2 linked regions of the Homo sapiens genome follow. The protein of the gene in region 2 purifies or fractionates together with the protein of the main gene of each other region. This does not show direct contact. Each region holds a gene or a part of one and is shown on either strand. Other genes may lie near its edges.

What was found.
Region 1: the proteins of TIPARP (region 2) and RNF114 purify together in Homo sapiens (affinity purification with mass spectrometry; 2 studies listed by BioGRID and IntAct, with this or other methods). This does not show direct contact.

What each region holds. Positions count from the first base shown.
Region 1 is NC_000020.11:49,946,360-49,949,896, reverse strand, and holds part of RNF114 (E3 ubiquitin-protein ligase RNF114), read right to left. Parts: intron 650-3,537; coding exon 542-649; intron 1-541. UniProt on the Homo sapiens protein: E3 ubiquitin-protein ligase that promotes the ubiquitination of various substrates. In turn, participates in the regulation of many biological processes including cell cycle, apoptosis, osteoclastogenesis as well as innate or adaptive immunity.
Region 2 is NC_000003.12:156,700,050-156,705,589, reverse strand, and holds part of TIPARP (protein mono-ADP-ribosyltransferase TIPARP), read right to left. Parts: intron 2,167-5,540; coding exon 1,888-2,166; intron 907-1,887; coding exon 459-906; 3' UTR 1-458. UniProt on the Homo sapiens protein: ADP-ribosyltransferase that mediates mono-ADP-ribosylation of glutamate, aspartate and cysteine residues on target proteins.

The sequences.
Region 1 (3,537 bases), on a different chromosome or scaffold from region 2:
CCAAGGTGGGCAGATCACGAGGTCAGGAGTTCGAGACCAGCCTGGCCAACATAGTGAAAGCCTGTCTCTACTGAAAGTACAAAAAGTAATGGGGCATGGTGGCATGCGCCTGTAGTCCCAGCTACTCAGGAGGCTGAGGCAGGAGAATCACTTGAACCCGGGAGGTGGAGGCTGCAGTGAGCTGAGATCACGCCACTGCATTCCAGCCTGGGCGACAGAGCAAGACTCCATCTCATGTAAGTAAATAAATGTCACTCTGGCCACCTGCCTGGCCCATGAATAGAAACTGTATAGTAGCTACAGTATACAGACTGGAAGCCCATCTAGCTCCCCAGCTACAGCTGCCTGCCCGCCTCTTCCACTCAGTCTTCTTTTCTCTCTTGTCAATCCCCTTTATCACTGTATCCAGTATACAGACTGGAAGCCCATCACAACAGCGACAAAGTTCAACACTGGGGATCCCCATTTCCCCTTTTGAGAAGAGTGAAGTAGCCGTGCCACTCCCCCAGGGGAGGGATCAGAGCCCAGGCTCCAGACTTACCACAAAAGTGTCATAAGAAAACCGGTGCCGGCGCTGGATGTGCTCTCTGAAGTTGGCGCTGCGGTAGTTGGGGTCTCCCCAGGGCATCGAGGCACATATCGGACAAACCTTTCAACACAAAAGCAAGGTCTTAGGCACCCAATTTCCAAGCTTGCACCAGCCCTCTGTGGCCTGTGTCTGGCCTCCTTTCTTCCAGGACAGCTTTCCTGACATACTGTCCAGGGCCAGTAACTCCTTCCTGTGCACATCAGCAGCCCAAAAAAACACTGCAAATTTCCAGCTCAAGTCAAATGACACGTGGGACTGGGTAAAGTTCAAATCATGATACCACCCTTTCTCATTCCCTACTGTAAGCAGAGAAGTGAGTCAGCCTGGTGGGGGGCCTAGACTGGCCTTCCAATCCAGCACACAAGACAATCCAAAAGCATGAGGAAAACTAAGAAAATAAGCCGATGAGCAATGTCCCAGGGAAGTAAAACACAGCCTTACATGCATCTTAACAAAGGAAATGCTCAGAAGAGGGGGATCAGGCTGAAAAGCCCTCACACAAAAGGTTGATTTGGTTTTTGAAGATTGGGAAGTATTTGGAAAGGCAAAGAGGACATGAAAGAGTGCTCCAGGCCGGGCACAGTGGCTCACACTTGTAATCCCAGCACTTTGGGAGGCCAAAGCGGTAGATCACCTGAGGTCAGGAGTTTGAGACCAGCCTGGCCAACATAGTGAAACATCTTCTCTACTAAAAATACAAAAATTAGCCTTGCATGGTGGCACACGCCTGTAGTCCCAGCTACCTGAGAGGCTGAGGCATGAGAATCGCTTGAACCCTGGAAGTGGAGGTTGCAGTGAGCCAAGATTGTGCCACTGCACTCCAGCCTCCAGCCTGGGTGACAGAGTGAGACTCTGTCTTAAAAAAAAAAAAAAAAAAATTGTGCTCCAGAAGAGAGGCAGCAGCACGGAGAAAAGGCCAGAAGGCGGCAGTTACTGTCAACACATGTAAACAACCAGACCAGTGAGTGCAGAAAACTCATGCCAGGGAGAGAGAAGACCTAAGTGCCCCCACTTAAAGGTGGAACCCTACCCCACAGCAAGGAAGATACAGTGATAAAGGGGATTGACAAGAGAGAAATCTGGAATGGTAGAAGACTGAGTGGAAAAGGTGGGCAGGCAGCTGTAGCTGGGGAGCTAGAACATAGGGTGGGACTAGAGACTGAAAAGGAGATGGCTTCTAAAGGGAAGGGAGAAACGCAGAGTTAAGAACTTGCAGAGGGCCGGGCGCGGTGGCTCACGCCTGTAATCCCAGCACTTTGGGAGGCCGAGACGGGCGGATCACGAGGTCAGGAGATCGAGACCATCCTGGCTAACACGGTGAAACCCCGTCTCTACCATAAATACAAAAATTAGCCGGGCATGGTGGCGCGCACCTGTAGTCCCAGCTACACGGGAGGCTGAGGCAGGAGAATGGCGTGAACCCGGGAGGCGGAGCTTGCAGTGAGTCGAGATCGCGCCACTGCACTCCAGCCTGGGCGACAGAGCGAAACTCCGCCTCAAAAAAAAAAAAAAAAAAAAAAAAAAAAAAAAAAAAAAAACTTGCAGAGGGAGAGGAAGACAGAACAGAGGGCCAAAGGCTGAAGAGAAGGCCTCAACATAGACAACATAATCAGAGGGATTTCAGAAGCCAAAGGAGGGGAAAAAGACAGAAAATTAGGCTGCCATACCAGAAAAGTTCAGCAATAACAGTATCCAACAAAATTATGAGTGCAAGTAACATTTAACCAAGTCAATCTGTATCTAAGACTTTAGCTTATAAACATACATAGATACAGGCAAAGATATGTTTCTCAAAATGGCCAGTTCCATCTTAAGATGAGCATTGATAGCTGCCCTAGTACTCTCACAAAAGCTCATTAAAATTCTAAAATTTCTGCACCACTGTTTACAGCAATGGAGCTGAAGGCTGCCCATACAACAGAGTATGTAGTTCAAGAGAAGCAGTATGAGATAAATGGAAAAATTAAAACTATAGAGGAAGTATACACCTAACTATAAAAAAAGACCTGGTCTGTCAATCACATTGAGAGAGAAAGGTAACACATTGCTAAGATGGAACAAATACTTTTTTGGGGGGGGGGGGGGGGGGGGGGGCAGTTTTGTTCTGCTGCCCAGACTAGAGTGCAGTGGCAGGATCTCAGTTCACTGCAACTTCTGCCTCCCAGGTTCAAGCAATTCTCATGCCTCAGCCTCCCAAGTAGCTGGGATTAAAGGCGCCCGCCACCATGCCTGGCTAATTTTTGTATTTTTAGTAGAGATGGGGTTTCACCATGTTAGCCAGGCTGATCTTGAACTCCTGACCTCAACTGATCCACCCGCCTTGGCCTCCCAAAGTGCTGGGATTACAGGTGTGAGCCACCGTGCCCAGCCTACATTTTTTTTTTTTTAAAGGAGACTACACATGCCAGTAGGTAATATCTGAGTAAAATGTCCAAGGATTGATAAGCCTTTTCCTAATAATTTCACCTAAATCCTCTTTCCCCACAACTATGAAGAAGCTACTTCCAAAAATAAAATGGCAGCTTCATGGAGAAATTTGGTGGACACCAAGGGAACCAAGTTAATGTTACCAACAACAGACATCACATGACTTAATGTAGCACCCAGAGGACAGAGAACTCGTGTACCATCCCTGCCTCTGCCTTGGGGGGAGGGGGAAATTGCTATGAAAGACATTACAATTGTTAAAATTAAAACATGAATTTCACATTAGACATTAGATTGAATCAATGTTAAATTTCTTGAATATGATTAATTATACACACAAAAATATAATTTTCCAAGAAAACATTCTTGTTCTTAAGACATACACACTCCTGTATCAGGGTGCGAAGTATTCAGGGTGCAAAAATGGTCATGGTATCTGTAGCTTATTCCCAAGTGGTCAGCAAAAAATGTGTACTATAGAGCATGGTTAAGCAAATATGGTAAAATGTTAACAATCTGTC
Region 2 (5,540 bases):
CTTTGGACAGGGAATACGCATGGTAGTACTAGTTCCAGTAAGTTTTATCAAACGTAAATAAATAAATAGAATCCTCACATTGCTCACAGCCTCCATTCCATTTGGTCAAACTTCTACCAGGCCCAAGCCACATTTAAATTAGGCTGTTCAGTTTTTTAATTTAATGCTCCTAATAACATTGCTGTCTATATGTACAAGTGTGAATGAAAAGAGTGTGTAATCTGTAGTCTTTTCCACACTGAGTACACTAGCAATTAGTAAATAATTAAAGAGTAAGTGGTCATTTTAAAACTTGTATTTTTTTTTTAAAAAAAGCATTTTCTAGCACTTTAAAAAATGGGTCTGAAAAGTGCCCTATTAATGTCCAATGCTGTTCCCCACCCAGTCCCACCCATTCAAAACCTGCTACAAATGCTGGATTGAGTTCATATCAAATAATTTAGCAGTACCAAGATTTTTCAAATGGAAACAGTGTTACTGACTTCTTCATATTGGATAACAAAATAAGGGTAACTCTGGTCATCATTAAAAATGACAAAAATCTGAGGCTCAAAGAAATTATCCACACAAGAGTCATAAAGGTCACTGGTGACACTGCCAGGATTGACTGGCGGGGGCCTTCTCATGCCATGACTGCCCATTGTGTATCTGCCCGTCAGCACTTTGGCCAGAAACATGAAGTGGACTCCTTTGGAGGACTTCTTAGAAAAGTTATGAGAGTAGCTTGCCTTCTTTGCAAAATAACTGCCTTGTCCAAACATTGTAGCATGCTTTCCACAGACTCGAGGGTCAAAGTTGTGTTTGCAGATTCCATCTACCACATCCTGGGATGTTCCATGAAATAAATGTCTCTCATTTATTATCCTGTCACGGCCAAACATTTTCCTGTTCATATATTCCTTTTTCCTAATGGAAAGAACAGACAGAGAATTCAGAAGGATGAAATACAGGTCAATTTAACAGGCATGATGTAGTCATAAACTTCTCTTTATGGTTTTAATGAGGAGTTATCAAGGGCAAAATGCCATCAAAGATCCTATTAAAAGTTGAAACTTATCTTTCCACTGTAGAAAAGGCCTTTTCCTTCTTTCTCCACCAATCATTCACTTGCTTTCTCTTTCATCTTAAATCTATTAAGAGTTCTCCTATGTTTTTCCTCAGGATGCCCTCCTTGCCTAATTCCTCCAATCTGAGGGTCTCTTAGATTCTGAGATTCCTGAAATCTAAATGTATTCCCTCCATTTGTCCTTCATTAGTTTGTTGACTTGAGAGGCACCACAGTAAAGGGATTAAGAGCAAGGCCTCTGGTGCCAGACGGCCTGGGTTCAAATTCCAGCACCATATCATAATAGCCGCATGACCTGCAGCAAAGTAAGCTTTCTGTGACTCAGTTTCTTCTTCTCTGTAGGATATAAATTGTAATAATCCTACTTATGTCTGTTATGAGGATTATATGTCAGTCAATACACAGAAAATATGAACATAAATTCTGTGCAAATGTTTACTATTATGTTCCTCATTTGACACTGGCTACAATAAAGCTCTCTTGATTCTTGAACTTTTTTTTTTTTTTTTTTGAGACGGAGTCTGGCTCTGTCGCCCAGGCTGGAGTGCAGTGGCGCAATCTCGGCTCACTGCAAGCTCCGCCTCCCAGGTTCACACCATTCTCCTGCCTCAGCCTCCCGAGTAGCTGGGACTACAGGTGCCCGCCACCACGCCCAGCTAATTTTTTCTATTTTTAGTAGAGACGGGGTTTCACCGTGTTAGCTAGGATGGTCTCGATCTCCTGACCTCGTAATCTGCCCGCCTCGGCCTCCCAAAGTGCTGGGATTACAGGCTTGAGCCACTGCGCCCGGCCGTCTTGAACTTTTCATACATCTGACTCACCTTTTATATTTCTCCCAAAGAAACTGGTTTTGGACTCTCAATATCTGCAAAATTCTGTATTTAAACTCAGGCACAGTCTTATGAAAAAGATTGTAAATGATCCGATAACTTTTATCCTCTGCAGAAACAGGGACTTGGATGAAGTCCTGAGATGGATGCATATAAACCCAAGTTTCAGGGTAAAAGTTTGCTGAAGTGACCCCATCTGGGCAGATAATTTGTGATGATGAAGTTGCTTCAAGAGGTGGAGGAGCTTGTGTGGGAACCCCACCAAGTGTCCTAAAATGGAGAGGAAGAAACATCAATGTAAAACATTAAGAAATAAGTACACCTCACATTATAGTGATCTATATCAGTGTCTACTTAATATTATAATCTGTATAGCTTAAGTGCTTATTTTAAAAGTAAAAAATGCTATCTATTTAATTAAAAAAAAAGGCTTGGAGCAAACATCGCCTGTACATGAATAACCTATTATTAGCCTTCTGTGGGCCTCCTTCCTGTGAAGAAAACTCTGGAATGTATAGCTACAAGGCAAACAAGCAAGAGCCAATTCACAAATACCTTTACGTTTGAATCCTAGACTCCTCTTTATTACCTATAGCTAAAGAAACTTTGTTATATGTTTTCTTCCAAATGTGCTGATACTAAGCAGAAAAGATTTCATTACTAAAGGATGTGTGGGTGGGAGACAAAGTAAGGCATGCAGCAAGGAGGGAGCTTATAGGGAGAAAAAAAGCTACTTTAATTTCTGTATAAAAACAAACAAAAATCATGGAGCAGGACCTGAATGCTAATATTTGACATTTGCTTCGTTTTCTAAGATCACACATAGAAACAAAACCACCAATACTATTCAACTTTTATAGCTTTGAGTGTGCTTAAGATGGAGCTAATTACTATAAACTCTAGATACCAGAATGCATATCCGTGAGCCTTTAAATTCATGTCTGTTACTTTGAACAATGATTTTAGATAAGCAGCAGCTTTGGTAAGTTACTTATTCCTGCCTAGTTAAATGCTTAAATTTAAATCATATTCCTTGGCCATTTCGAAATGGAGAAAAAGAGAAGTGGAAGAGAGCAAGGAAATCCTGACCCTGAGACCTAGTTCAGGGCCAGGTGCTATAACACTCATTGGCACATACTGGTCACAAGGAAGTAATAATGTGTGCCAAAATGTATTAGGAAACTGAAATTTTCATAAGAGCTTTGTGACACAGAGACTACAACTTTGTGTGTCTCATCTCCAAAGAGCATAGCTGACCATCTCTCTCATCATAATCATAACCAATTAATACTATGTGCCAGCCATTTTACATACAATATCACTAATTGTCACAATAACCCTGTAAGATGACTTGGTTATTCCCACTTTTCAAATGAAGAAACTGAGGTTTAGAGAGATTAAATAATTTGCCCGAGTATAGCTAGCAAAGAGCGAAGACAGAATTTGAATCTAGGCCAGGCCCATCTAGATAGTTTCTAATTTCATACTCTTTTCAGTTCCATATGTTTCACAATTTATATATATATTTTTTAAAACAAGGCTAGAAAGTGATCGACAGGATACTAGGATTCCAACCTAGTTTTGCCTGACACCACCATCACCACCACCACCACCACCACAACCACCACCACCACCACCACCACCACCACCACCACCACCACCACCACCACCACCGCATTATCATCAACACACAGTCTTTTAGGAGATGACTTTCAAGAAGCTAAAACAATGGAAGCATGACTGCCGTCTCTAACCCCCACCTTCTACAAGTGACTGTGCCTTCAATTCAATGTGCCTCAAAGTCTCTTTGTGAGACAGAGTCCTGGATGGATGGGTGGATCCAGGGCTTACTGAATCTCCGAGGTGCTTTTAAGTACAGGGGGAGATTTAAAGTGCTGCTGGTTTCTCCAACCTTCACAACAAAAGGCACAACAGTCCTTGTCCTCTGTAGCATTTTCTCAGAGCCCACACAGATTCCTTTGGATCCTCAGTACTGATACATTTTTCTGGTACAATGGTACATTTTTCACTGGTACACTTTCCTGAAGAGAGGTCTGACTGCTTTAATCAGATTCTCAAATATCTATAACTCCTTAAAAAGCCATCACTAATCTGGAGGAATGGCGGGGAAGCAAAGAATATAAGCCCCTTATTTTTATTTAATAGCTCCTCCCTCTATCCAGCTTTGCAAAGAAAAGGGTAAGTCCCCAGCCCACCAGGTTTTCTATTATTATCAGGGCTTGAAGTTACCAACACAGGCTTCTGGTTTGAAAGAAAAAGGTAAGATTCTCTGCAAACACTCTCCTCTAGAGGTTTTAGACTGTCAGCCTGTACAGCAAACCTAGCCGTGACAACAGAAGAGATTCTGCCCCTTTTCTTTCTGATATCACTACTATGGACCCGTTCCATAAAATGCAAACTTCAAATATAGCTTTTCCTTTTTTGCAGGGGATGGAGGTCCATTATTACTAACATATGCTTGAAGATGAGCCGAGATAAATAAATCCTATCCATTCTAAGATATTAAACTGGACTATGTATATGGTTAACATCCATTCCAACCCATAGATGCTTACTTTTAACAAGCCAACATCCTAACTTGCCTAAAACATAAAAATGCATATACACATCTGTCTGATGGGCTTCAACACTCTAATAGCCATGGGTTAAAAAAATATGTTTCAAGCGCAGTTACAAATGTGCCTTTATTTTCTGAGAATGAGTTTGTATTCACTGCATGGGTATTCCAAAGATATACTGCATGTTTCACAGACGGACACCAGCCTTCTCTAGAGAGGGAGTCAAAGGGAATTGAGCTTCTACACAAGGATCTCTGAAGAATGAAATTTCAGAATCCAAACTCACCTTTTATTACTTTCCCTCCTTCCCCTTACCATTTTGAAAGATGTTTACTAAATCAGTTTCAGCGATGAAATACAAATTAATTCATTTTATCCTTTTCAGGGGGGATTAAAGAAACTGTGCCAGGCATTCCCATGACCATGAGGTGACTGCATGGGATAAATGTTCTTTCAGCTGAAAGCACTGAACCACCAAACCCCTAAGCTTTGTTTGCTTATGCAGTCTCAGTTCAAGTATTCTAAGATCAGCCCCATTAAAAAGCAGGAGAAACCTTTTAAAAACAGCTGAATTTGTAGAAAATTCATTAATTAAGTCAACTTCCTACCCCACCCCTTCTACTCTTAGGCATCTGATTCCCTGAGAATTGTGGCCTCTTTAACACCTATTTTTTTTTTATCCTTTGCATTTAATAACACTTAAAAACAAAACATCATGCCTGTAATCCCAGCTACTTGGGAGGCTGAGGCAGGAGGACTGCTTGAGGACAGGAGTTCAAGACCAGCCCCAGCAACATAGTGAGACCTTGTCTCTACACCAAAGAAAAAAAAAGAAAACATTAGCTGGGGATGGCAGCATCCACCTGTAAGTCCCAGCTACTTGGGAGGCTAAAGCAGGAGGATCACTTGAACCCAGGAGTGCGAGGTTACAGTGAGCTATGATGATCATACCACTGCACTCCACCCTGGGCGACAGAGGAAATTCTGTCTCTAAAAAAGTTTTAAAAAATATAAAAAATAAAAAATAAAAAAATAAAAAAGTTTTAAAAATTTAACAAAACAAAA